Linked DNA regions of Homo sapiens. The protein of the gene in region 3 interacts with the protein of the main gene of each other region in a pairwise test. Each region holds a gene or a part of one and is shown on either strand. Other genes may lie near its edges. The genes, in order: NUP54, BMP2K and PKNOX2.

Evidence for each region.
Region 1: the proteins of PKNOX2 (region 3) and NUP54 interact in binary tests that used the Homo sapiens proteins (3 or more experiments, as listed by UniProt).
Region 2: the proteins of PKNOX2 (region 3) and BMP2K interact in a two-hybrid assay, tested with the Homo sapiens proteins (one large-scale study listed by IntAct).

What each region holds. Positions count from the first base shown.
Region 1 is NC_000004.12:76,141,747-76,145,400, forward strand, and holds part of NUP54 (nucleoporin p54), read right to left. Parts: intron 2,728-3,654; coding exon 2,644-2,727; intron 2,547-2,643; coding exon 2,403-2,546; intron 1-2,402. UniProt on the Homo sapiens protein: Component of the nuclear pore complex, a complex required for the trafficking across the nuclear membrane.
Region 2 is NC_000004.12:78,908,799-78,912,452, forward strand, and holds part of BMP2K (BMP-2-inducible protein kinase), read left to right. Parts: intron 1-1,811; coding exon 1,812-3,235; 3' UTR 3,236-3,654. UniProt on the Homo sapiens protein: May be involved in osteoblast differentiation.
Region 3 is NC_000011.10:125,167,657-125,171,310, forward strand, and holds part of PKNOX2 (homeobox protein PKNOX2), read left to right. Parts: intron 1-3,654.

The DNA.
Region 1 (3,654 bases), on a different chromosome or scaffold from region 3:
TTTTCCTGTCTACTTAATCCTACAACAGTTTAGAATTGCTTAAAGGACAGCTCCTTAGTAAAACATATAAGGCACGCTAATAATCCAATTCATATCTATCTCTCCAACTCTCACTACTGACCCTGAGGTCATTTATGCATTAAAAAAACTGCACTGATCTAGTTATACTGGTCCCAAAGGCATTATACTCTGCCATAAACCATGCCATGTTATTTCCTCTGCGTGGATACCCTAGAATCTCCTTGACTATGAGCAAGGATTGTGGTCTTCAACCTTGTACACCCAATGCCTGACATACGATATATACAATAAATGGATATTACATAACAAAATGAGCCCCTTTCAATTTTAAAATAGCACCAGATTCAAATTCCCATTTTCCTAAAAAAACCAAATGTAACTACAGTTACTCATAGTTGGAGAGACTTTATTTCAAGAAACAAAGGAAACACTTCACTTTTGCTGTTCTTTCCTTAACTACTTAAATATTTCATCAAATTTTGTATTTTTGCAGGATTGTAGAAAAGACGAATGACTGGAATACTTGAAAGAATAATTCTGAGAATACTATTCTATTATCTTCATCCTACTGTTAGGCAATCCTTGAAATTCATGTTTAATAAGTTAATAACTAATCTTCAGTGACTGAGTAGGATGAATTTTAGCTAGTCAATCAAGTTACTTAAAAAAATGAAACAGAAGTAATTTTAAGAGGCATCAGATTGGAAAAGTGAAAAGAGCACTAGAATGAGTAGTTGAATTTGCATCCCTGTACTTCTTCTAGAGAGGTATACAGGTAAGTCACAATCTCTCAGGTTCCTCTCTTCACCCATAAAATGGGGATAACAAAAGTATTATTTCACAGGGTTCTTGTGAGAATAAGTTAATCCATACAGAACAACCCCTGGAACCTACTGCCATACCACCTAGTAAGGATGGTTAGTAAGGAAGCCATCAAAGACTAATAACCAGACTGTCTCAAAGGGACTTGGGAGCCAACTTGAAAAGGCTTGCACTGGCCAAAGATGTAACAATTTAAGCATCAATAAGAATGGTAACTGCAATGGATTAAAAAATAGTAACTAGTTTAAAGGCTGCAGTTTCTGACATTAAAAAAAAATTGGTCATCTTTGGAGAATGCTAGATAACCAACTCTTTATTCTGAAAACCAGTAATAAAGAGAAAGAATCAACCAAACAGATGAAGTCAAGTTTCTCCTCACAGAAGTATTTCAACAAATAAATGAATCCAGGTGGAATGGCACTATTTGTAACCCCTAATGAATTAATGGATCTAGGTAATGATCACCAATGGCTCAATGGCTGATCACTCAAAAAAAAAAGATATTATATGTCTTCTGATAAAAAATAGGCCTATAAAATAGTCTTGCAAACAAACAACAAAACAACAAAATATATATATGTACGCCCCAGATCTAACCCAATCATCAAGAAATACAGAGAACAAAGGAATGTGTTAAACTATACCATAGGCGTGCAATCAGAAAAGTCTTGACTAAAAAACTCTATAGGATAAATGATCTGTTTTCTTCAACAAATTAAAAAATAAAAAAGAGAGGCCAGGCGCGGTGGCGCACACCTGTAATCCCAGCACTTTGGGAGGCCGAGGCAGGCAGATCACGAGGTCAGGAGTTCCAGACCAGCCTGGCCAATATGGTAAAACTCCGTCTCTACTAAAAATACAAAAATTAGCTGGGCGTGGTGGTGTGCGCCTGTAGTCCCAGCTACTCAGGAGGCTGAGGCAGAAGTATCGCTTGAACCTGGGAGGCGGAGGTTGCAGTGAGCCGAGGTCGTGCCACTGCACTCCAGCCTGGGCGACAGAGCAAGACTCCGTCTCAAAAAATAAAAAATAAATAAAAAAGAGAGATAAAAGAGGAGCCTATGGAGATTTAAGACAGGCAAAACCAAATACTGTTTACATACTTGAATGACAAAATATAAAGTAAGAAAATGATCACCATAAAAGCCAAGACTGCAGGTCCTCTGATGGGGAAGCAATTGGTAGGGAAATGTGGTAGGCTTCTGAACTGGCTGGCCAGGAACCATCTCCTGACATGGGCAGTGATTACAAGGGTGTTAACCTTTGTAAACTTATATATAATTCATTAAGCTGTACTTTTGTGCAGTTTCTCTATTTGTTATTTTTAACAACAAAAATTTAAATGGAATGATCCTAAACACAGGGACCTTATAATCCTAACTGTGCCAATCAGTGTTCTCCCCAGTTGCTATCATATTTAAACATGAAAAGTAACATTCCTAATCCTTTGGAATATATTAATAATTCTTATAAAAAGTCCACTAAAGTATTCTGAATGCACTCAATAATGTCAGCTAGTATCATCACGGTTTTGTATTTGAAGCTGAAAACCTCATACTTACTAGTTTGCTGCTGCTGCTGTGTATTAAATCCTCCAAATCCCAGTCCAGTTCCCAAACCAGTACCTAAACCAGTACTAGTTCCCGTTGTTGTGCCAAAACCAGTACCAAATCCAAAACCTTTGTTCTGAGTACCACCAAAGAGTCCTTTGAATGAAAAATTGGAACTTCGTAAGTTAAAAAAAAAAAAAAATCTGACCTCTACTTCATTTACTTCTATGAATGACTTAAGATGGCCTCTTACCAGTAGTGCCTGTGTTAGTTGGGGCAGAAAAGCTGAATGCAGAACCTGCAGTTGTAGATGTTGTCCCAAATCCTCCAAACCCACCTAATTAAAAAAGAACAAAAATAGAAAGGAAGAATCTTTTGTATATATAAAGGCAACTTCTTTTTAAAATTATTTTATAATTGCTACATATAAAATCAAAATATATTGATCTAATTTTTCCTTTCCCTACTTTCAAGATCAATTTTTTAAAAAACTATACTACCAATCAAGAAGTCAAAATGTTACAAGAAATGAACTAAGCATTTAAAATAGAAATATCACAATGTAATATATACCCTTCAATTAAAGGGGTGGTTAACAGTTACAGCTGAGAAAACACATTAAGCCTATTGCCATAATTCTAAAATGACTATGTATGTACTTTTAGAGGAGGTGTTGCAAATTCATATGCCTAGAAGATTTAGACTGATAACAGTAAAGAGTAAAGTAGACTATGTGTTTACTGATAGGTGGAACTGTTTAAAATGAATAGTTTTTTAGATCAGCAGTTCCTAAATTCCAGCAGATACAAGAAAGGTAGTTTAGCAGTGTCACATATTCCCATTTTTTACCCCAAGAGAAACAGGAAATCTGGATTTTCTATGTAAAATTTATTGGTTTTTGGCTGGGCGCGGTGGCTCATGCCTGTAATCCCAGCACTTTGGGAGGCCGAGGGGGGTGGATCACAAGGTCAGGAGATCGAGACCATCCTGGCTAACACGGTGAAACCCCGTGTCTACTAAAAATACAAAAAATTAGCCGGGCGTGGCGGCGGGCGCCTGTAGTCCCAGCTACTCAGGAGGCTGAGGCAGGAGAATGGCGTGGACCCGGGAGGTGGAGCTTGCAGTGAGCCAAGATCTTGCCACTGTACTCCAGCCCGGGCGACAGGGTGAGACTCCGTCTCAAAAAAAAAAAAAAAAAAAAAATTTATTGGTTTTTAAACCCTAATTCAACTACTTTTTTTTGCAAGGAATTCAAATGTTTTGA
Region 2 (3,654 bases), on a different chromosome or scaffold from region 3:
TTATGGGGTACATGAGATATGTTGATACAGGTATACAGTGCATAATAATCACATCAGGGTAAATGGGTTTCTATCACGCCACTCATTCTTTTCTTTCTGTTAATGGTGCTGCCATCCACCAAGAGTTTTCAATCTCTATTTTTTCTACTTTGACCCACCCTGCCACCACTGTCATGTCATCTAGGCCACCAAAATCTCTAACTTGCATTACTATAATTTCCTTTTGCCTGAACTCCCCTTCTTACCTTCCCTTAGTCTTTTTTTTTTTTTTTTTTTTTTTTGAGACAGTTCGCTCTTTGGCCCAGACTGGAGTGCAGTGGTGCGATCTTGGCTCACTGCAACCTCTGTCTTCCAGTTTCAAGCGATTCTCCTGGCTCAGCTGGCACCTGCCAACATGCCTGGCTAATTTTTCTATTTTTAGTAGAGATGGGGTTTCACCATGTTGGCCAGGCTGGTCTCAAACTCCTGACCTCGTGATCCACCCGCCTTGGCCTCCCAAAGTGCTGGGATTACAGGGGTGAGCCACCGCACCCAGCCCCCTTAGTGTTTTTCTATAGAGCAGTCATTTTTTTTTATGTAAACCTAATCATGACACCTATTTTAATAATAGCTTTCCATTATACATGGAATTTTGAATTAGATGTATAATGAAATATACGCTGCTTATCATGGCCTTAGAGGACCTTCACAGTCTGGCCTTTTCCAGTCTTCCTTACCTCATGTTGTACCTGATCCTCCCTTGCTCACTATATTCCAGCCACAATAGCCTATTTTCAGCCCCTTAAATATGTCTTTATATATGCCATTGCTTTTATTGGAAGCTGCTTCCAGCTTATCCTTTGCATGGCTGGGCTCCTTCTCATTGTTCAATCCTAACTGTCGTCTCCTTAGGGAGGTCTTCACCACTGTCCAAAGTAGGTTTATGCGCCCATTTCCCTGCTGTCCTTTATTTCAGAGCACTAGTCACAATTTATGTTTACTTACAACCTCTGACTGTAAACCCCTGAAAGCAGAAACCATGTTTCTTTTACTCACCAATGTATAATCAGTGTATAGCAAAGTGCCCTATATTTCTTTCGTTGAATGAACTCAGAAAATGAAGTGACTGAATGGATTCTGAGCTAAAAACATCTCCAGATGGTTTAGATTTGTTTTTAAAGGAATCTCGCTTTTTTAATGTAATGTATAGATATTATAATTAAAGGAAGTCATATCATCTAGAGAAGGCAGATGTTTTTGGTACAGTCTCCATTTAGTATCTGGTCCTTAGCTTTGGTGAGGCCATTCATGCTAAGTCAATTCAAAAGATAGTGGTTTATAAAAAATACAATGCTGATTTAAAAAAATAGTGAAACAAATACGTAACTGAGCAGGCAGGCTGTTCATGCTTGTTGATCTCTATGGGAAAACTTTACAAGAGTTGAAATATAAGCAGGAGGTATTTGGTGAATGTGAAATCTGAGCTTTCAGAATTAGCAGAATAATGTTATTTTGGTGGTGGGGTGAAGAAAATTTGCTAGTCTACTACATTCTGTGTGCTATAAATAAAATTTGGCTGTCAGTGAGAGTACGATGAGGCAGGGTGTAGGGTCCAGATATGAATAAGTCTGTCTACATTAAGACTTAACTATCTACCTGAGGTCAAATGCATTCTCTAAGTCTAATGACGAAGAATTGACAACATTATTTTTTCCTCTAAGGGAACTCGTATGAGGGATTTGTAATGCCATGTGTAATACATATTAACATTTAGTGCAAGAGGATTCTGAAATGCATTGGAATGCTGTAATAATATTTATTTGAACTTGCAGGTTCTCCTGAAAAGAAAGCTGAACATTCATCTATAAATCAAGAAAATGGCACTGCAAACCCTATCAAGAACGGTAAAACAAGTCCAGCATCTAAAGATCAGCGGACTGGAAAGAAAACCTCAGTACAGGGTCAAGTGCAAAAGGGGAATGATGAATCTGAAAGTGATTTTGAATCAGATCCCCCTTCTCCTAAGAGCAGTGAAGAGGAAGAGCAAGATGATGAAGAAGTTCTTCAGGGGGAACAAGGAGATTTTAATGATGATGATACTGAACCAGAAAATCTGGGTCATAGGCCTCTCCTCATGGATTCTGAAGATGAGGAAGAAGAGGAGAAACATAGCTCTGATTCTGATTATGAGCAGGCTAAAGCAAAGTACAGTGACATGAGCTCTGTCTACAGAGACAGATCTGGCAGTGGACCAACCCAAGATCTTAATACAATACTCCTCACCTCAGCCCAATTATCCTCTGATGTTGCAGTGGAGACTCCCAAACAGGAGTTTGATGTATTTGGCGCTGTCCCCTTCTTTGCAGTGCGTGCTCAACAGCCCCAGCAAGAAAAGAATGAAAAGAACCTCCCTCAACACAGGTTTCCTGCTGCAGGACTGGAGCAGGAGGAATTTGATGTATTCACAAAGGCGCCTTTTAGCAAGAAGGTGAATGTACAAGAATGCCATGCAGTGGGGCCTGAGGCACATACTATCCCTGGTTATCCCAAAAGTGTAGATGTATTTGGCTCCACTCCATTTCAGCCCTTCCTCACATCAACAAGTAAAAGTGAAAGCAATGAGGACCTTTTTGGGCTTGTGCCCTTTGATGAAATAACGGGGAGCCAGCAGCAAAAAGTCAAACAGCGCAGCTTACAGAAACTGTCCTCTCGCCAAAGGCGCACAAAGCAGGATATGTCCAAAAGTAATGGGAAGCGGCATCATGGCACGCCAACTAGCACAAAGAAGACTTTGAAGCCTACCTATCGCACTCCAGAGAGGGCTCGCAGGCACAAAAAAGTGGGCCGCCGAGACTCTCAAAGTAGCAATGAATTTTTAACCATCTCAGACTCCAAGGAGAACATTAGTGTTGCACTGACTGATGGGAAAGATAGGGGGAATGTCTTACAACCTGAGGAGAGCCTGTTGGACCCCTTCGGTGCCAAGCCCTTCCATTCTCCAGACCTGTCATGGCACCCTCCACATCAGGGCCTGAGCGACATCCGTGCTGATCACAATACTGTCCTGCCAGGGCGGCCAAGACAAAATTCACTACATGGGTCATTCCATAGTGCAGATGTATTGAAAATGGATGATTTTGGTGCCGTGCCCTTTACAGAACTTGTGGTGCAAAGCATCACTCCACATCAGTCCCAACAGTCCCAACCAGTCGAATTAGACCCATTTGGTGCTGCTCCATTTCCTTCTAAACAGTAGATACTTCTGATGGATTCTCGGCATTAACTCCTGTTTCAAAAAAGTGTGAACAGTTTTATGAATTTGAAAGAAAATTTGGTAGCTCTTTATAGCATTCATTCTTAAAGATCAGTCAGAATAGGTGATTTCTAAATAAACCAAATAGAAGAATGAAGTATCTCTACAGGGTAGTAACTTGATTCCTCTTCAGGAGAAAAGGGAGCTAAATTGCAAGCTCTAACTAAGGGTTTCTGCTACTGACATCACAACACAGAAATGCAAGTGTGGTACTTCCAGTGAAAGCACATGGCACCTTTCTAGGTGTGTAGCCACTGAGAAGGGACAGTGAAACTGTTATTTTTGATATCAGAATGTCATTTTTATGTGCATATCCCTAAAATTAGGGTTATTTCTACATACACTAGTTACACTTGTGAATT
Region 3 (3,654 bases):
GTTTTATGATCCTCTCTGGGAGTTTACTGCTCTCTGCTTTTAAGTCTATAGATTGCTTTAAGTTAATGAAAGTGCTGCTTTCAAAAGGGGCTTTTATTGTGTGGCAGTGGCAAATCCAGTACCTCCCCTTTACTCTTCCAAAATGGGCCTGTTTAAAAAGAGGGAGCTTGCTGGATCCCACATGGCAGAGCTTGGGGGAGGGTGCCATGTGACAATGAGAATTAATAAAAGTTAATGTCCAAGTGATTCTGAAAGACGAGTTTGCTTCTTTTCCAGTCCGGTTTCATCTGTTCATTCTCGTGTTGCCTTTGGGCTTTCACTGAGTCTGCCTTTAAATGTTGCTTGGTGCCTCCCCAGCAGCCTCTCCCAGCATTGCTTTAGGTAGGCCTGACCCCTGTTCAGTTAAACCCAAACTGGATTTCAGGATTTCAGCCCAGCTGCCAATTCAAACTGCAACTAAAATATTTACTTGGGACTGGGGGAGGGGCTTTGCCTCGCGTTTAGTAAGATAAATGTGTTTAAATGCCTGGGAACCTTGAGAAGGAACAAGGCAGGCTGTTTTTCAGTGCTTTTTGCTTTTTCAATCTGTTTGGCACAAAAGGTGAGATGACAAGGTTTTTGACTAGGTCCTAACACAGAAACTGCAGTGGGCTCAGGCTGTGGCTTTGACCGCATGTCATAACCATTTAAACTGTGGTTAGTTGTTCAAAGCTCAAAGCTTCTCCAAGCTGGGTTTCATTAACTCTACACCAGTTGCCTGGAAGTTCAGTAGCAATAAATTGTATAAACACATTTGAAGTAAGTTAGTGATGAAATAAGTAGAATTACTGTCTTGTGAGTGGAGAATCCTGAATTCATGGAGTTCTAGCTTAACTGGAAACATACCTCCTCTCCCTTGGCCTTGAAGTTTATGGGTGCACCAGAGTGTGTGTTAAATTTCTTTCTGCCATGTCCATCTTCAACCTGGGCTGTAACTCATTAGAGACCAAGGCATGCCTAGAAAGCAAAACGGCTGGATTTTAAAGGGGTCTCTATTAGCTTGGTTTAGGAATCAAACCAAACCAATTGACCTGACTTCTTTACCTTCCGTGAATCCAACGTGCAACGTAAACAGCAGCAGAGCAGGGGAAAATTAGATGTTTAAATGTTAGAGGCTTAATAATACTGCGTTGTTAGCAATTGAATTTGTTTTTATTAAAGAAACAACCAATAAAATTTATAGGCTTCCAACATGTTGCAAGATTTCCTTGCTATTTATTTAGCTTCCCCCTCCCTACTTTCTGAAATTCTATCTCTAATCTCAGGCTTTTGTTCCCGATTTATTTAATCTGGAGCACATTTTCTAAATTAGTTCGAGGAGGGTGAGAAAGGCTGTTATGAGTTTTCCTTTTTCCTACGCTGTGTGGCACAAGGACTGCGATGCTGTAAGATATATATAAACGTGTGATGCAATTGCTGGAGGTGACGGCATGTGAAGCCAAGTGTCTGGATCAAACAAAACGCAGATCCGAGCATGGAGAGGGTGAAAACGATGCTGCAGAGGAAAAACTGAGGAAGTTCTAATGGAAAATGAAATCATCATGAACCACCGTTAGCCTGAGTCTAGCCAACACACCATGCTTTGTATAAAACACTTCACGTGAGATCCGTGACTTATTGAAGACTGAATTATACTGAGAAGCAGAATTTAGAGGGAGGAGCTCCACGGGCTGGGTTCTATCCAGGCAGCATGGCCAGGATTGTTGCGATGGGGATCTGCTAATTTAATTAAATCTAATACCTGGTGGGAAAGGGAGGAAGGAGGGAGGGAAGTGGTGGGCAGATAATCAAGGTTGGCAGGTCAGCATGCTGAGCTAGTGTTTAGGCTGAAATTTAGTGGCCTGGTCTCTTTTGACTCTGTTATTGCCAGGGCTGCATGACTCCAGTGGGTCATCTAGCTTCTGGGCCTTGGTTTCTTCATCTGTAAAGTGGAATGTATCACACACAGTTCTCACTAGGGTGAGATGATGGGCTTGGATCAAGCACAGGCTGCGCTCTGAGTAAAAAAAATGGGAGATAGAGGCTTCTCAGCAGCAAAGTCACATTCTTCGGTGTGTTTTCTTTCCTCGCCTGGCTCCAGGGCCTTCCCCACAACTCTCAGGAGTTCTTAGGCTATAGTAAAGGGGCTGAATTCCTGCCTTGCATTACATCCTAGAATTTGAAAGGCCTGCTGTGACTCCAAAAACCATCTACACTTTACCAAGAGGGGCAATTTTGGCTGAGTTGGGGGATCCAGCCCGCTTCTTCCAAATGGTGTTACCTGGAATAGCTGTCCTGTATCAGACGAATGCAGAATCTGACTTATCAGAAATGCAGCCCCTTCTCTTTATTCCACTGGGAAGGCAAGGCCTGAGCCCTGACTGGTGTGTGTGTGACATCTGGTCGGCTGAGGGGGTTGGGTGCTGGTCTGCAGCTAGCCACGGCCTGAACCTCTCTTAGCAGTCTCTGCTGGCAGATCAAAGCAGATTCTGGGCCAGAAAGCCCAAGAAGTTACACCCGGCACTTACACAAAACTGTGTGTGCGCTCGTAGACTCCTTCTGTTCCGGTGTCTGATTTGTAAAAGCTAGCTCTGATCCTGGAGACGCGGCTCTGGTGGAATGCTTGTCTTTAATACTCCCTAGTCTTTGGGGATTCCTTGGGGTAATTTTTCCTCCTCATTTCCTTCTCAGCCAATCACAGGCAACATCTTAGTCTCCATTTTGATTGGGGGTGGGAGACAGGGCTGGGGGTTGAGAGAGCAACAGTTGGAGGGCACAGTCTTTCTACCTGAACTCCAGGTTTTCCTCCCGTCCAGAACCCCCAGGAGAGAGGGAGAAGCAAGCCCGGGACAGCTCAGTTCATCTCACGCGGTCAAGCAGAGCTTGAGAAGAGCTTGCTGCAAATGCGTTGTCTTCAAGGGGATCTGCTGTTTGGCTTGGATGCCTCACTGCAGGCCCGGCCTGCCTGGGTTTCTAATTACAAGAAGGACGTTTCTGCTAAGACCTATCTCACTAAAAACACATCCCTGTGTGTAATAAGAAACCCTAAACCAGGCAGGATATTTTAAAACTGAAGCAATGAAGATTAGATTAAGTCTCCACCAAACAGCTTCGTTCTTGTATTATTTTTGGCTGGAATGTGGAGAAAAGCAGCTGGCCCTGGGGCCCAGAGCAGACTCTGGAGAGTTCGGATAGGGCCGGGGTGGGTGGGGTAACTGTTAGTTTTCTGCTTAGTAGGAACGTGGCCAATTTGAGTACGGCTCAGTCAAGGCAGTGGGGGTGCCCAGTGGGGGAGGGGGGAGGCTGGGGTGGAGGAGGAGCCAGATCCAGATGGGCCAGAAAGCGGCCACAGAAGCAGCAGGTCACAGGGCACTGAGGCTTGTAAATCCTCCACCTCATTAGGACGTAGTCTTTTGTGTTCAATTTACATCTCTACTCACATCGCCATCCCAAATCTAGTAGAGAGGGAACAAATAGTTGTTGAGGATTCTTGGAAATAGAACCCAGTAATCGGGCATCATGGGCAGGTGTCCTGCCTTGCTGGGGAGGGGCAGCATGGCATTCACCCATTCCCTTTGTTCTTCCATTCAGCAAATATTTATAGAGCATCTTCTGTGTCCCCGGCACAGTCCTAGG